Linked DNA regions of Homo sapiens. The protein of the gene in region 1 binds, or shares a complex with, the protein of each later gene. Links are inferred from orthologs where the notes say so. Each region holds a gene or a part of one and is shown on either strand. Other genes may lie near its edges.

Evidence for each region.
Region 2: the proteins of SAP25 (region 1) and SIN3A are in contact, whole or in part, in an NMR structure (PDB 2RMS), measured with the Mus musculus proteins. The link is inferred for Homo sapiens from one-to-one orthologs. Residues at the interface, in NP_001075431.2 of Mus musculus: Ala208, Glu209, Ile211, Ala212, Leu213, Ala214, Gly215, Leu216, Leu217, Gln218, Met219, Ser220, Glu223; in NP_001103821.1 of Mus musculus: Leu121, Lys122, Val123, Ala126, Leu127, Leu130, Tyr144, Phe147, Leu148, Met151, Lys152, Phe154, Lys155, Thr161, Val164, Phe182, Phe185, Leu186, Pro187.

Annotation. Positions count from the first base shown.
Region 1 is NC_000007.14:100,571,548-100,578,109, forward strand, and holds SAP25 (histone deacetylase complex subunit SAP25), read right to left. Parts: upstream 2,354-6,562; 5' UTR 2,196-2,353; coding exon 2,050-2,195; exon of another isoform or gene 1,854-2,049; coding exon 1,750-1,853; intron 1,666-1,749; coding exon 1,559-1,665; intron 1,467-1,558; coding exon 1,313-1,466; intron 1,205-1,312; coding exon 1,107-1,204; intron 1,025-1,106; coding exon 740-1,024; 3' UTR 681-739; downstream 1-680. Other genes in the region: LRCH4 (leucine-rich repeat and calponin homology domain-containing protein 4), read right to left, coding at 3,840-4,235, 4,324-4,461, 4,691-4,776, 5,147-5,230, 5,355-5,458, 5,539-5,607, 5,726-5,842, 5,950-6,011 and 2 more. UniProt on the Homo sapiens protein: Involved in the transcriptional repression mediated by the mSIN3A but not the N-CoR corepressor complex.
Region 2 is NC_000015.10:75,385,552-75,392,820, forward strand, and holds part of SIN3A (paired amphipathic helix protein Sin3a), read right to left. Parts: intron 7,265-7,269; coding exon 6,691-7,264; intron 4,271-6,690; coding exon 4,101-4,270; intron 1-4,100. UniProt on the Homo sapiens protein: Acts as a transcriptional repressor. Corepressor for REST. Interacts with MXI1 to repress MYC responsive genes and antagonize MYC oncogenic activities. Also interacts with MXD1-MAX heterodimers to repress transcription by tethering SIN3A to DNA.

The DNA.
Region 1 (6,562 bases):
GTGTGAGGGGCTTTAAGGCCCAGATGCCACCTCGGACAAGTGACCTGCAGGGCAACAAGCTGGGGTCCTGCCCCCTGTGTCCCTTCCAGCTGTGGCACCTAAGTCTTGAGTAGAAGGTTCTCCAAGAAGTTGGGCTATTTTATGGGAGAAAATTCTAGAACCTATCCCCGCCCAAACCACCGAGACTACACACTTCTGGGCTTTCTCAGCTGAAACCCTGATCCTGTTTCTCTACAGAGTTCGTGCAAGAATCTCTAGAGTCTCAGGTAGGCTGCGGCAGGGCCACCTTTCTGCCAGTGGTGACATTTACATGGACCGGCACCCTCCCCCACACACCTGCAGTGCATTCTTTGTGTCTCCTCTGAGCCAGACAACTACCCCACCCAGCCCAGAACTGAACTCCTGGAGCCCCAGCACAAGAGGTGTGGGGCTAGTGTCCCCTAAAAGTGAGGTGCCCCTACTTACTCCCCCGCCTGCTTCCTATACATTCAGCCCTGCACTGCCATGCAGACCACCCACCCACTCATTAAAGGGGCTCTGCCCAGTCAGCCCAGAAATGCCTTAGGTCATGGATACCCTCGCCCTCCGCCTAACACAGCAGGGGGTGATCTGCAGTGAGACAGAAAGAGACCCCATTCCTGCCTCTATGACTTACTCTGCTCCCAGCCACACGGAGCCTGTTTTGCAAACCAACACTGTTTTATTGTCAACACAACCAGCCCACTCTGCCCTGAGAAGGCTATGGACAATGGGTGTCTGGGGTCTGTGGGAGAGAGAGGTCAGCACCCTGAGAACTGCTGGGGCTACCACAGGGGCTGGGTGGGTCAGAGGTATGGTCTGGGGGGCCAACCGCGGAGGAGCTGGGCCTAGGCTCCCCCTGGCTCATCTGCAGCAGGCCAGTGAGAGCGATCAGCTCCGGCCCGCTGAGCCAGGCAGTGGAGGGGCCCCGGGAGGGTGATGGGCGGGGGAGCACCCTGGCAGACATGATGGGGGGCGGCGGCAGCAGTTTCAGGGAGCCCATCATCTGAGGAGAGAGAATGGAATGTGTTTCCTGCCAGGCAAGCCTGGAGGCTGGGGTAAGGACAGGGAGGGGAAAGAGCTCTCACCTGCTGGGGGGCCTTGGACAGGTACAGGGGAACACGCTGCCCCCGGGGCAGCAGAGGGTCCGAGAGGAAGACATCTTCACAGCACACCACCGGGAACCCTAGGAGGAAACACCACTAGGGTGGCGGGCTGCGGGCTCCCACCCCTGGGCACTGGTTCCCAGAGGAGTTGGGGCAGCCTTGCGCCCCCGGGGGACCAAGGGAGGTACCTGCATCTGGGGGCGCCTGCTGTCCATTCCAGTGCCCTGTGGCAGGGGCCACGGGCCTGAGACCCCTGCCCGAGGCTGCTTCATACAGCGGCCAGAATGAGGGGTGACACAGCGTCCGGCCTGAGAACGAGGCTCCTGAGCTACAGTTGGCCCCCTAGGGTGAGGAGGACAGAGCACTGGAGCCTCAGGCCACCGCACAGCTCCCTGAGCACCCCAGCCAGTCCCACAGGTTTGCCCCCAACTCACCCACACCGGCCGAGGTCCTGCTTTGGCTTCATACTTGGGGTCCCAGGGCGCTAGTGGAGTCATCCTCGAGGGGGCCACCTCCCAGGCCACCTGGGGGGAACGGGGATCTGGGGGGACGCTTGGGGATTATAACAGGCTCACAGTCAGTGAGAGGCTCTTAGGGGTAGTAGAGGCAGCAGGGCCTGTCCTACCTGGGGCTCCGGGGGGCTGCTCAGTGGCCGGGCCTGGCAGGTGGTGGGGCAGCAGCAGCTGCTCTCTCCAGATCCAGGAAGGGCTACGGGATGGGGGCTGTGGGCTGGAGGGGCAGGGACTGAGGCTGCAGCCACACCGCCCCCACGCACCCTCCCCTGGAGCCCAAGGGTGCCTGGTGCAAGGGAGACCGAGGGACCCAATCTCCAGCAGGGACAATGGAGAAGCCTCCGTAGAGCGCGTGGTGAAGGCATGGAGGCCCCCAGTCGCTGTCCCCCCACGGCTCCGTCCGAGCCCCTCACCTGTCCCATGGGGGTGTCCCCAGCTCCCTGGGGGCGTCCGCTCCGGCGCTCCAGGGCTCGCCCTGGTCCTTGCCCGCCGGAAGGCCTGGTCCCTCGGGCGCCTCCTCCGGGCCCGCGCCCCACCGCGGCGGCGACCAGGGCAACATTCCGCGTTCCCGAGCGCAGGACGGTACCGCCGTGTCCCCGCCGCCCGGCCCGGCCCTCTCAGCCTCCCTCCGCGGCGCGGCGCGAACGTGCCCTCCTGGCGAACCCACCCCAGAGGCCTCGCGGCGACGCTGGCGCCCTGTGCGTCTCCCGGCCACGTGGCGCGTGCCCCCGCCGGGCTCCCGCGGGCGCCCCCTGGCGACTGGGCGGTGAATTCCGGAAACAGAGGCCCCCCCAACAACCCCGCGACGCACGTGCTCTCAGACACAGTTACACCTGAGGGCCACCCAGAGGGCTTCTGGCTTCTGTTTATTGCGGCTGACACGACACCTGCGACACCCGCGGTCCTTCCACCCAGACCCTCGACCCCAGAGGCAGCCAGGCCGGCAGGCCAAGGGTGCCCAGGCCCAGGCCACCCTCACCACGTGCTTCTCTGAGAGCGCGGAGCCCAGGCGCGTCTTCTGCTCCCGGGGTCCCGGGCGGGGTGGGCCCTGTGCCCCCACCTTCACCCCTAAGGCCGGTCCAGCAGGGCGTGGACGACAGCAGCGATGTAGGGGAGGCCCCTTCCCGGGGCCCCCTCCTCTTCCAGGATGTGGTGGGGCTGGCACAGTGACTCCTGGGGGAAGGGGCCGGGTTAGCTTCCCCACGGTGCCCCCTGCGGCTTCCGGCCTGTGGCAGGGGGTCGGGGGCAGACCCGAGCATCACCGTGCGCTCGGGGCTCGGCGACAAATGAGACGCAAGAAAGCTGTCAGCGATAACAGAAGGGAGGTGACACGGGGGGTTGGCGGACGCTCCGGGAGCATGAGAGGCCGGCATCTCAGGAGGGAGATGCTGGTGGGCACAGAGCCATGGCCACAGCCACCAACACGCGGAGCAGACGCGCGCGCGCGCGCACACACACACACACAGGCAGGGCGGCCACGGTCTGTACAGTTTATACACAGAGATAGGGACCCGGCCTGGGCCCCGAACCCCTACAAATATAGATCCTCTCTACAAAATAGAGATAATTTAGCCCCCCCATAGCAGCTGTTGGGGGGGGAAGGGGAGGGCACAGGAGGAAGGGGGAGACTCCAGCTCCTGCCACCCCTCACGGGGTACAGAGGGCAGGGGCAGGGCCGGCGGGGACATGAAGGCACCGTCAGCACTGAGAGGTGGGGACTCGTGGGGCTACTGGAGGGAGGCCAGAGGCTGGGGGCCCAGGGTCTGGGGGCACCAGAGTGGGGCCTCTGAGGTCAGTGTCTGTGAAGGGGGTGCACTAGTGTCTTTGGTTGGGGCTGAAGGCACCGCAGGTGGGGTCGGGTGGAGCAGGGACCTTATAAATAGAGAGGAAGGGAAAGGGGTGAGGGAGGGCCGATTTTGGGGCCTAGGAACCCAGGAGCCGAGTGTAGGTGACATAGAGCAGCAGCATGAGGACCACGTAGAAGACGACGAAGCCGCCCAGACCAGAGGGGGGCCAGAGGGGCGGTAGGGCCTTGCCCCCCACCCGCTTCACGGCCTCCAGCGCGGTCCGCAGCCCCCGGGCAGTGCCCTGGAGGAGATCCGAGGGCGAGCACAGGTCAGCCTGGGGGAGAGGAGAGCAGGTGGACAAGGACAAGGGACAGACGTCAGCAGCAGCAGCAGGACAGTCCCTCCCACCCCTGCCCTCACGTGCTGGGGCCAGAACCACGCCCACATGCTGACGTGCTGGGCAGGGGGAGTGCAGTGCAGGAGGAGTGCAGGGCAGGGCATGTGCAGGACAGGTGACATGCAGGACAAGATGGGGCCTGCAGGGCAGGGGATGTGTAGGACAGGTGACATGCAGGGCAGGGGGCATGCAGGGCAGGGGGCATGCTGGGCAGGGCAGGGGCAGCCTGTGCCTTCATCTGAGAGCAGACATCCGCTGCAAATGGAAGCCCACCATCCATGCCACATGCTCGGCTGAGTCCGGCATGCCACCACTCTTTAGAAAGCAGCCCCCATACCTCAGGCACCCCCATTTTTCGACAGGCTTCTAGAAAACTCTCCACATTCTTCCGAGCCTTGAGGGCACTGAGTTTTGGCTGGGGTGGGTGAAAGAAGAAAATGTGGTAAGGGAGAGGCCACAGGCGCCCCGGCCCATCCCCCACCTCTTCCCCAGCCCCAACTGACCACAGCAGGGGAGGGCACATGGATGAAGGGCACGGAGCGCGGCCGTAGCTGGTTGGCCAGCTGGCACAGGATGACCCCACTGGCCAGAGCCTCGGCCAGGTCCTCAGGCAGGGGCCGCTGCAGCCGGGACTCAAGGACCTGGCAGTGTAGACCACATAGAGCAGGGGTCAGGGAAGGAGAGGCGTCTGGGAGGCAGGGAGAGTGGGGGGCTCAGGGCTAGCAGGGAACTTGTGCCTGTCCCTTCCTGTCCTCAGGGGAGGTGCCAGAGTGGGCACAGAGGATGTGGAGGGAGGCTGGTCCCAAGGACAGCAACACAAGGAGGTGCCCGGCCCAGGCCCCTGCCCACGCAGCTCCCGCCTCTGCTCACCTGGCGCAGCTGAGTCATTAAGTCCTTCTCATCTGGAACCTGGGGGTACCGCCGAGGTCTCAGGACAGAGTCTGGTGAGGAAGGGCCTAGGAGAAAAAGGGGGGCATGGGGCTGCCTCCACTGCTCACCACTGACTCTGTAGCTGGGTCCCAGTGGCCTGGCACCTACACCTCCTGCCTCTCTGCTTGTGGGATTTTTTTTTATTTCATGGAGATGGGGTCTCGCTATGTTGCCCAGGCTGGTCTTGAATTCCTGGGCTCAAGCGATCCTCCCACCTGGGCCTCCTAAAGTGCTGCGATTACAGGTGTGAGCCACCACACCCGGCTTGCTTGTGGGATTTTCAACGCAAAGGTACAAAAGGTACAACAGACCCAGAGGGCTCCCAGGGCAGAAGGGTGATGTAGCCGTTGGTGCTGGCAAGCACTGGGTCAGCACTGGGGAGGGCAGGACACCCACCTGAGCCACTCTGAGAGGAGGAACGGAAGAGGAAGCTGTTTGGTCTCTGAATGGAGCCAAGTGGCCGTGGAGCAGGTGCTGTCGCTGGGGCCGGAACCAGGGACACAGCGACAGGGGCAGGTGAGACAGGCATCCCCTCTGTGTCCCTCTCTCCCAACCAGCCCTCACCAACACAGGCCCCATCCTCCTCCCAAAATCCCTGTCCCACCTGGTCCAGCTATGGGAAGGGGCTCTTGGGAGGCAGGGGCAGGGGCGGGGGCTCCCTGCCCCGCTGCAGCCCCTGCTTGGGAGGCACTGGACTTAGGCGAGCCGCTGAGGAGAGACAGAAGGGAATTAGAGGGATGATGGTCATAGGAAGAGGAGTGGGGAGGGGATGCTGGCAGGAAACCTACTTGTGCATGGCTTGAGTGGACACGGCGGCGGCCCCTCCCACAACAGCCCTGAGCCCTGGCTTCAAGAGGCTGGAACAAGGAGAGGTGGGGTCAGCTAGCCCCAAGGCAGAACGGCTCAGCGGGGCTCGGTGGCCCCATTTCCAGGGCTCAGTGTCCAGCAACAGCCCCGGGCGGCCCTGGGTCCCACCTATCCTTCCTCGGGGCCCCCCACGCCCCGCTCTGCTGCTGCTGCCGCCGTTCCCGCTCCTGCCACAGCTGCAAGGTGTCCGGGCGCCGCCGCTCCTCCCCTGCCGGCTCCTCCCGCCTGAGGGACCAAGACAGGGCAAGAGGGGCAGACCCCGGGGTCAGGGAAGGAGGCGGTTGGGGGGTGGGAGGATCGGGCAGTGGCGTCAGTTTGGGGGCTTGGGGTACCTGCTGCTTGGTGCCCTCTCCCTGTCCCCTGCCCCAGGGCTTAATTCGGGTGGTCGCTGCTCCTAAGGAGAGAACAGCAGAGCAGCTGAGGGCAGGCCTGTGCCCACGCCTGCCCTGTCCCCTCCTCCAGCTCCCCTCCCTTGGGAGAGGCATAGCTGGGCTCTCACCTCCACAGTGCCTCGCTCTTCATCCTCCCCGGGGACATGGCTGTCGATGAAGTCAATCTGCACAGGGTCTCCGTCCGCTGGGGAGGCCAGCATGTCAGCAAGTGAGCGGGGACCCAGGCCCTGGTCCAGCCCAGCTCCCGGCCAGCCCTGCTACTCACCTGAGCCATCCTCCTTGCGTTCTCTGGGTCCCCGGGGCTCCCGGGCCAGCTCTGAGATCCGGAATGACAGCTCTGAAAATTCATCTGTTGACTGTAAAGGCAGAGGCAGAGATGGGAGATGGCCTCTCTGTACATGGGGGCTCAGGACCTGGGGGGTCCTGTGTGGGACTAAGCTCAGGGTCTCTGCTGAGCCAGCCCTTCCCTGGGATGCTGGGCAGAGGGAAGGAAGAGGACAGCTCCAGCCTCTGCCTGGCACCCTGCAATTTGGAGGTCCCCAGTTCAGAGGTG
Region 2 (7,269 bases), on another chromosome or scaffold:
CCAAATGAAACTTTATCATCAAAATGACAGAAGTGAAAAATAGATACAAGAAGAAAGCAAAACGTTAATTTCAATATTGATTTGTCTGTTTAAAAAACTTTAAGATGATCATAACCACCAAGCCATTCTATTTTTAGGAAGACACATTCTTTTTAAGTGTTAGGAACCATGATAACTATTTATTCTTAAGTCCTAAATGACCAGTATGTGTATTAGTAGATAACTGGACACAGTGAAAGGTCAGAACGGTGACTGAGTGTGGCAGAAAGGGCAGTATCTCCAGCAACTACAGATGGATAAATAAATCACAATGAGTCCAGATAAAGGATTCTGATACAACCATTAAAATAATGCTTATGAGTACCTGATATCATGAGGAAGATTAAGATACAGTGTTTTAGGAGAAAAAAGAAAAGGTGGAAAAAAACAGATGGAAAGCATGACTTCAATCATACATACAGATGCTTCCACTTTCTACTTTCTTTTTGAGACAGAGTCTCGCTCTGTCGCCCAGGCTGGAGTGCAGTGGCATCGTGATCTTGGCTCAGTGCAGCCTCAACTTCCTGGGCTCAAGCAACCCTCCCATACCTCAGCCTCTTAAGTAGCTGGGTCTACAGGCATGTGCCACCACGCCCAGCTAACTTTTTTGTATTTTCAGAAGAGACGGGGTTTTGCCATGTTGCCCAGTCTGATCTCAAACTTCTGAGCTCAAGTGATCCACCCGCCTTGGCCTCCCAAACTGCTGGGATTACAGGCGTGAGCCACCGCCTCTACTTTATACTTTCTTGTTGAAGTAGACTGTATTACTGATTCCCCACCCATACTCTCTTTTTGGATATCTGGCCCCTCCTCGAGTCTTCAGAAAAGACAGCACTACAAATCCAGAGACAGCTACGGAACTCCCACCCCCACTGCTAAGCAGATCAGATTCTCTATCTTGCTAATTGGAGATGACAGAGAGGGTGTTCAATAGATTTTTTGAGGAGGAGCATCTGTATGGAAAGGTCTAGTAACACTGGGACCAGGGGTACTGGGAGGGCAAGCCAAAGCCTCAGAGGCTGGAGGAGCCTGGAGCACATGCCGTATGTTCATCTGCAGAGCAAAGCACAAGCATGGAGCAGAAGTCCAGAGTGAAGGCATGCAGGAGAGAAAAATCACCTCCCAGCCCAATCCTTCCATGGTGTGGTCCTATTTTGAGTTCTGTACTTGGATGTCTGTGAGGTTGCCTATTGTATTCTTAATACAAATCCCTCTTAAGCCAGCCTACAATAGGTAAGATAAATGTAATGGCTTCACTTGGCTGGAATGCAGTGGTGCAATCACGGCTCACTGCAGCCTCAACTTCCTGGGTTCAGATGATCCTCCCACCTTAGCCTCCTGAGTAGCTGGGACTACAGGCATGTGCCACCATGCCCAGCTAATTTTTTGTATTTTTAATACAAATAGTGTTTCCCCATGTTGCCCAGGCTGGTCTCCAACTCCTGGACTCAATATATCTGCCCGCCTTGGACTCCCAAAGTGCTGGTATTAGAGGCATGAGCCACCATGACCAGCCTTGACTTTGAAATATATGTTGTACATTCAGTCAGCAGTGGAATCTGAGGGAACACCAAATATGAGGAGAATGAGAGAAGAGATACCTCCAGTTAAAGGAGTTGAGAAGCTTGAAAATGTTTTAAAAAGTCACTGTAGGCTGGGCACAGTGGCTCATGCCCGTAATCGCAGCGCTTTGGGAGGCTGAAGTAGGTGAATTGCTTGAGCCCATAAGTTTGAGGCCAGCCTGGACAACATGGCAAAACTCCATCTCTACAAAAAATACAATAAATTAGCCGGTGTGGTGGCCCCTTTGGTCCCAGCTACTTGGGAGGCTGAGGTAGGAGGTCAAGGCTACAGTGAGCTGATCACACCACTGCACTCCAGCCTGGGCAATAGAGTGAGACCCTGGGTTGGAAAAAAAAAAAAAAAAAAAGTCACTGTTTTGGGGTTTTCTGGATGAAACCTGTTTCCATTAAAAAAAAAAAAAAAAAGCGGGGGGTGGGTGGAGATAGTATTTATTACTGATTCAAAATCATAACCAGATACAGTAAATAATTGTAACTATTGTTTCGAAAACCAACCTCAGAATTATTAAAAGTTAGTTTTATTGGATTTTTTTTTTAAGCTGTGCTGGTGGTATGAAAGACTTCGTTCCTAGCTGAAGCAGCAGCAAGCCTGTAATCAGCAACATAAGCACAGGGTAACTGGAGTCTGTATTTTATATAAATTTCAGGGAAGTTAAGGAAGATTAGTCTGAAAAAGTATGACTATGGGTGACTATGTATCCATCTAATGATTTCTGCCAGTTACCATCCAGACCTCTTATGGGAAGGCCTAACAACTTCTTCAACTTATTGGAAACAACTATCTGACAACTTTCCCCCAGATGTTAAGGTTCATTTATATGAAGGGCTCTTCCTCAATCCTGTGTAGATACTGTGGGAGGAGTACAGAGGCATGCACCCTTCCAAAACCAAGGCAAAAGCATGGGTACTTTGCAAAGAATTCAATATTTTAGCCCAAGAGAACATTAAGCAACAAGCTCTTTCCTTCTACAGTGGCAGTGTGGATTCTAGAATTAGAAATTGCTTTTTACAAGTTTTCACTTAAGTACTTCACCGCCTTTCTGCTGAGCTATTCTATGGAAGAGGGCTGTAGGTAGCCACGGTACCCAGGTGGAACAGCATGATCCTAAAGCCCTACTTCCACAAGGAATCGCAGTGGCCCATGGCCACGTGGTTCAACCAGCCAGCCCAGAAGATCTGCAGATGCAAGCAAAAGTATACCACATTGACCTGCACCCTGCATCTGGACCCATCTGACCCATGGTAAGCTGCCCCACAGTGAGGTACCACACCAAAGTACAAGCTGGCAGGGGCTTCAGCTTAGAAGAGTTAAGGGTGACCAGCATCCACAAGAGGGTGGCATTAGTACACCATGTCCCTGTGGGCCAATGTTCAGCACCTGAAGGAGTTAAGACTCCAAGCTCAACCTCTTCTCCAGGAAGCTCTTAGCCCCCAAGAAGGGAGACAGTTCTGAAAAACTCAAATCAGCCACCCAGCTGACAGGACCAATAATGCCCATATAGTACGTCTATAAGAAGGAGAAAGCTGGAATCATCACTAAGAACTTTAAGGTATTTGCCAGTCTTCACACAGCCCACATCAATTTTCAGCTCTTTGGCATATGGGCAAAAAGGGCCAAGGGAGCCACAGAACAGGATGCTGAAAAGGAAAAATGAAGCCCTGCTGGGGACTTGCAGTCAATCAGCAGTAGAGCTGGGTCTCCAGAAAAAGAAAAAAGCAGTTAACCAACAATCTCTCTGGGAGTTCAGAACTCAAGTCCAAGAAGTAGAAATGTGACTATCTGTTACAAGCTATTTTTTATATCATTGTTGTAAAGAACAACATGTTTACAAGTTCCCAGGGTGCCACAGGAAGAACACACAAAACCAACCAGAAACCTAACTTAGAGGGAACCGCAGATGAGTGAGGTGGGCAGAGTATTATAAAAGATGTTATGTGAACCCTTTCTTATAAAAAGAATTTCAAATATTAAACAATGCAAGTACATAAGAGTTACCAACACCTTGACCAGGCGCAGTGGCTCGTGTCTATAATCCCAGCGCTTTAAGAGGCCAAGACAGGAGGATCACTTGAGACCAGAAGTTCAAGACCAGCCTGGGCAAAACAGTGACACCCTGTCTCTATTTAAGGAAAAAAAAAAAAAACTTACCAACACCTATGGAAGACGCAATGTTCCACACTGTGTGCTTACCCATGGCAGACAAGGTAAGAGATAGACAAGTTGTGCAGGAAGCTGGGGTCAGGACCACTGCACTCTACAGGTGGCCAGCAAGAAAGGATATGGGGTAGGCAGGCTCATACACTGCAACTTTGTTAACATGAGAAATCAGGCATCACATTAACCTCCCCTCCTCTCTTCAGAACCCTACGTTCATAAACACTGTTATATGAAAAAGTTGCCTTTCCTTTTCCTTGCGTGGCCCATCTCTAGGTAAGGATTTCTTCCCTTACTCACCCTAGCCTCCTCCATGCCCTCACCTGTCTGACAATGCTCTGGATCAGTTTGTCCATGGTAAAGGCAATGTAGGCATGAATGGTGAACATCTCTCTCAGTGAATCTTCATACTGTGATGAGTCTATGTTGCCATCCAGCAGGCTCCGCACCATGTCCAGGAAAGCTGGGTAATAATCTTCTACATCAACATCCACTGTGGGAGAGATGGGATTGGTGAGGCCTTACCTTGCTAAGAAAAGACTAGGGATAGAGTACAGGGCAAATCCCACAGCTGGCCTAAATGGCATTTGAAAGTATGAACACTAGGTATTCAAAATATACTCACTCATTCCAATGTAAACAGAGATGAATTCCGACAGGTGACTACAATCACCAGCACTATCAGAGTGACTCTGCAACTTTAACAGTGGCTTCTAATATTCTGACTACCATGCTAGAAAGATACTTCTTTATGGTACTGCTGGGCCACTTTCAGAGAGGAAAATATCCTAGGGAAGCCAGTCCTTCAAAGAGCTGTTGGCTCCCCTGCTGAGAGAGGAACCTACTCTCCCAGCCTGCACAAGAGCATTCCTCACATGGGTCACTTGCTCATAAAGCTATTTCAATGAAGCATAAAGTACAGATGAGGAAAGGCAGACACAGCCATACTCCAGCACTGGGAAACCTCTTGGGAACACAAAAATAGGAGTGCAAATTAAATCCTTTATGAATAATGAAGTAATCTGCATTTGTCAAAGTCCTTTTGTTTAAAAATGGATTCGCTACGTTGTATTTCACAAATTGCATTAAATCATCTGTAGTTGCTGCACATGAATCATTTCAATCACTAGCTAGAATAAATCTCATCAGTTGTTAAAGACATTTGGCAACTAGCAGAGGGCACAAGGAGTATTAAAGAGTGCTGCCTTTAGCTTACTAAAGACCCATTTATATAAAGTTCAAAAATAGACAAATCTAATCTCTAGTGTTAGAAATCAACAAAGTGGAAAAAGGACTGGTTATCAGAGTACTGGTTATGTTTCGTTTCTTGAACATAGGTACGTCTAGTCTGTAAAAATTCACTGAGCTGCACAATTCTGATTTGTATACTTTTCTATATATACATGCCGTACCTTATATGTATTTTTTTGTAGAGATGGGGTCTCACTTATTAACCAGGCTGGTCTCAAACTCCTGGCCTCAAGTGATCCTCCCACATCGGCCTCCCAAAGTGCTGGGATTACAGGTGTAAGCCACTGCACCCGGCCTATACATTGCACTTCAACAAAAAGTTGACTAAAATGAAAAAAGTTACAAAACGAACTATTTGTCACTGACTAATTGGTTACTTGCTAGTTGTGTTTGTGCTGGAGAAAAAAGGCTAGGAGCAAAACCAAGTTGTCTCCATTTATCTGAAGTCTGACGAATTCATTAAAAAACAGGCAAAACAGGACAAATACTGTTTAAAAGAGGCAACTGGCTTGAGTTTCATCACAGACTATCACATTCTTTAGCTCCATAGAATAGGTATAGGCTATAGACTCCAAAATATACCACTGCTATGAAAACTGCTTTTATGCCAGAATAAAGTTTTGAGTCCAAACCACAGATTTGTCCAAACAAGCTGTGGTAAGTGTGAGGGTTGGCATTATCAGACAAGACAACATTATGTAAGCCTCAAACCAGGTTAAGTCAGTGGCCAAGCCAGGAATAGGCCATTTAATTTCTAATTTCTACCCAAGTAGATGGAATCACCACAATGAGATCTAAAATTTATCTCTTTCGAGCTAGGACTAGTCTAGATAAAAGCTTTCAGAATTATTTTTCAGTGTCATTAGCTCCTCAACAGATAGAAAGCTAGGGCCATATCTGGGCTTCCTACATCAGCAACACATAAAAAAAAAAAAAAAGAAGAAGAAGATACACTCCTCAGGTTGGCTATTTCCTTAAGAGCCCAGAAGAAATGCTTCATGAAAAAGCTTTTGGCTCACAGCTCAAGTACCTAATTTATGACGTGAACTGGAAGCAGGCAGCACAAAATTACATAAAGCACATGACAGCGTCCTGAACCCTCACTTACTTTCCTTTTCCTGAGTTCTACATCTTTATCCCTGTCCTGCCTGTTCTCCATGTCTCATATCACCTTTTGAGTTCCAGTCTCCTTTCCATAAACTATTTCTACATATTAAGAATGAGCCATAAACCCCACTGGTTAAACAGAAGTCCTGCTCAAAAATATGAGAAAATTCTGTTTTAAGCACTAGGAATTTATGTTCTGTCATGGATTGAAATTGGCTGTGACAGTTTAGTCTCTATCTGTACTTTGAAACAGATGGCAGTAACCCAGAAATCTGCCATTTGAGAAATTAACTGTGATACCCCCTTCCCAGGTGCGTCCACAGTACCAACCACTGACCAAGTGTCCATGATCTAAGCCCTGCATAGGATACTTTGCACAAAGCAACACCACAAGCAACTAGAGCCTCCATTTTTCAGATAAACAGGTTCAGAGAGTTTAACTACACAGACTCTAATGCCTGTGCTCTATTAATAAAAGAAGCAGTCCCAAGTCTAGGTGGCTCTAAGGTCCTCAACCTCACACATCCTCTGTAAATCAGAGGTCTCGGCACTCACTAGGTTCTTTGAGACGTAGCTGAATGGCAGGGCTGTCACTCTTGTCTCGCTTTATGCCCAGCACTTCCCGTTCCCATTCTCTCTCTCGGTTTTCTTCTTCAATTTGCCGTTCGGCTTGGGAACAAATCCGTAGCAGCCTCAGGCAGAGAATCTGGTGCAGTCGCATAAAAATATACCAGTTGTTGTTGACATAGAAGAGGTTGTATACTTCATCCATTCCTCTTAATTTTTGAGCTGCTGTGTTACTAAACAGTAACTTGGACTTAGGGGGACTGCCCCCAACACCATTGTGCTTCTTAACTGCCCCTGTGGCTTCATCTACATCCATCTCTTCTTCTTCCTCTTCCTCCACATCTGAGAGATCACCTCTTTGGGCAAAGAGCAAATCTGGAATAAAATGATGCATGATTTGTTTTATCTTATATTTGTCCTCCTTCTGAATGCCTGTCTGCCTCTTCACATGGTGGATAATCAGAGCAGCAGCATCTTCCAGTATTTGTTTGTCTTCATACGCAAGTGAGAGGTGTGGGCCAACAGGTACACCAGCATTCTCCTCCGTAGCCTGCTCTTGCCTCTGAT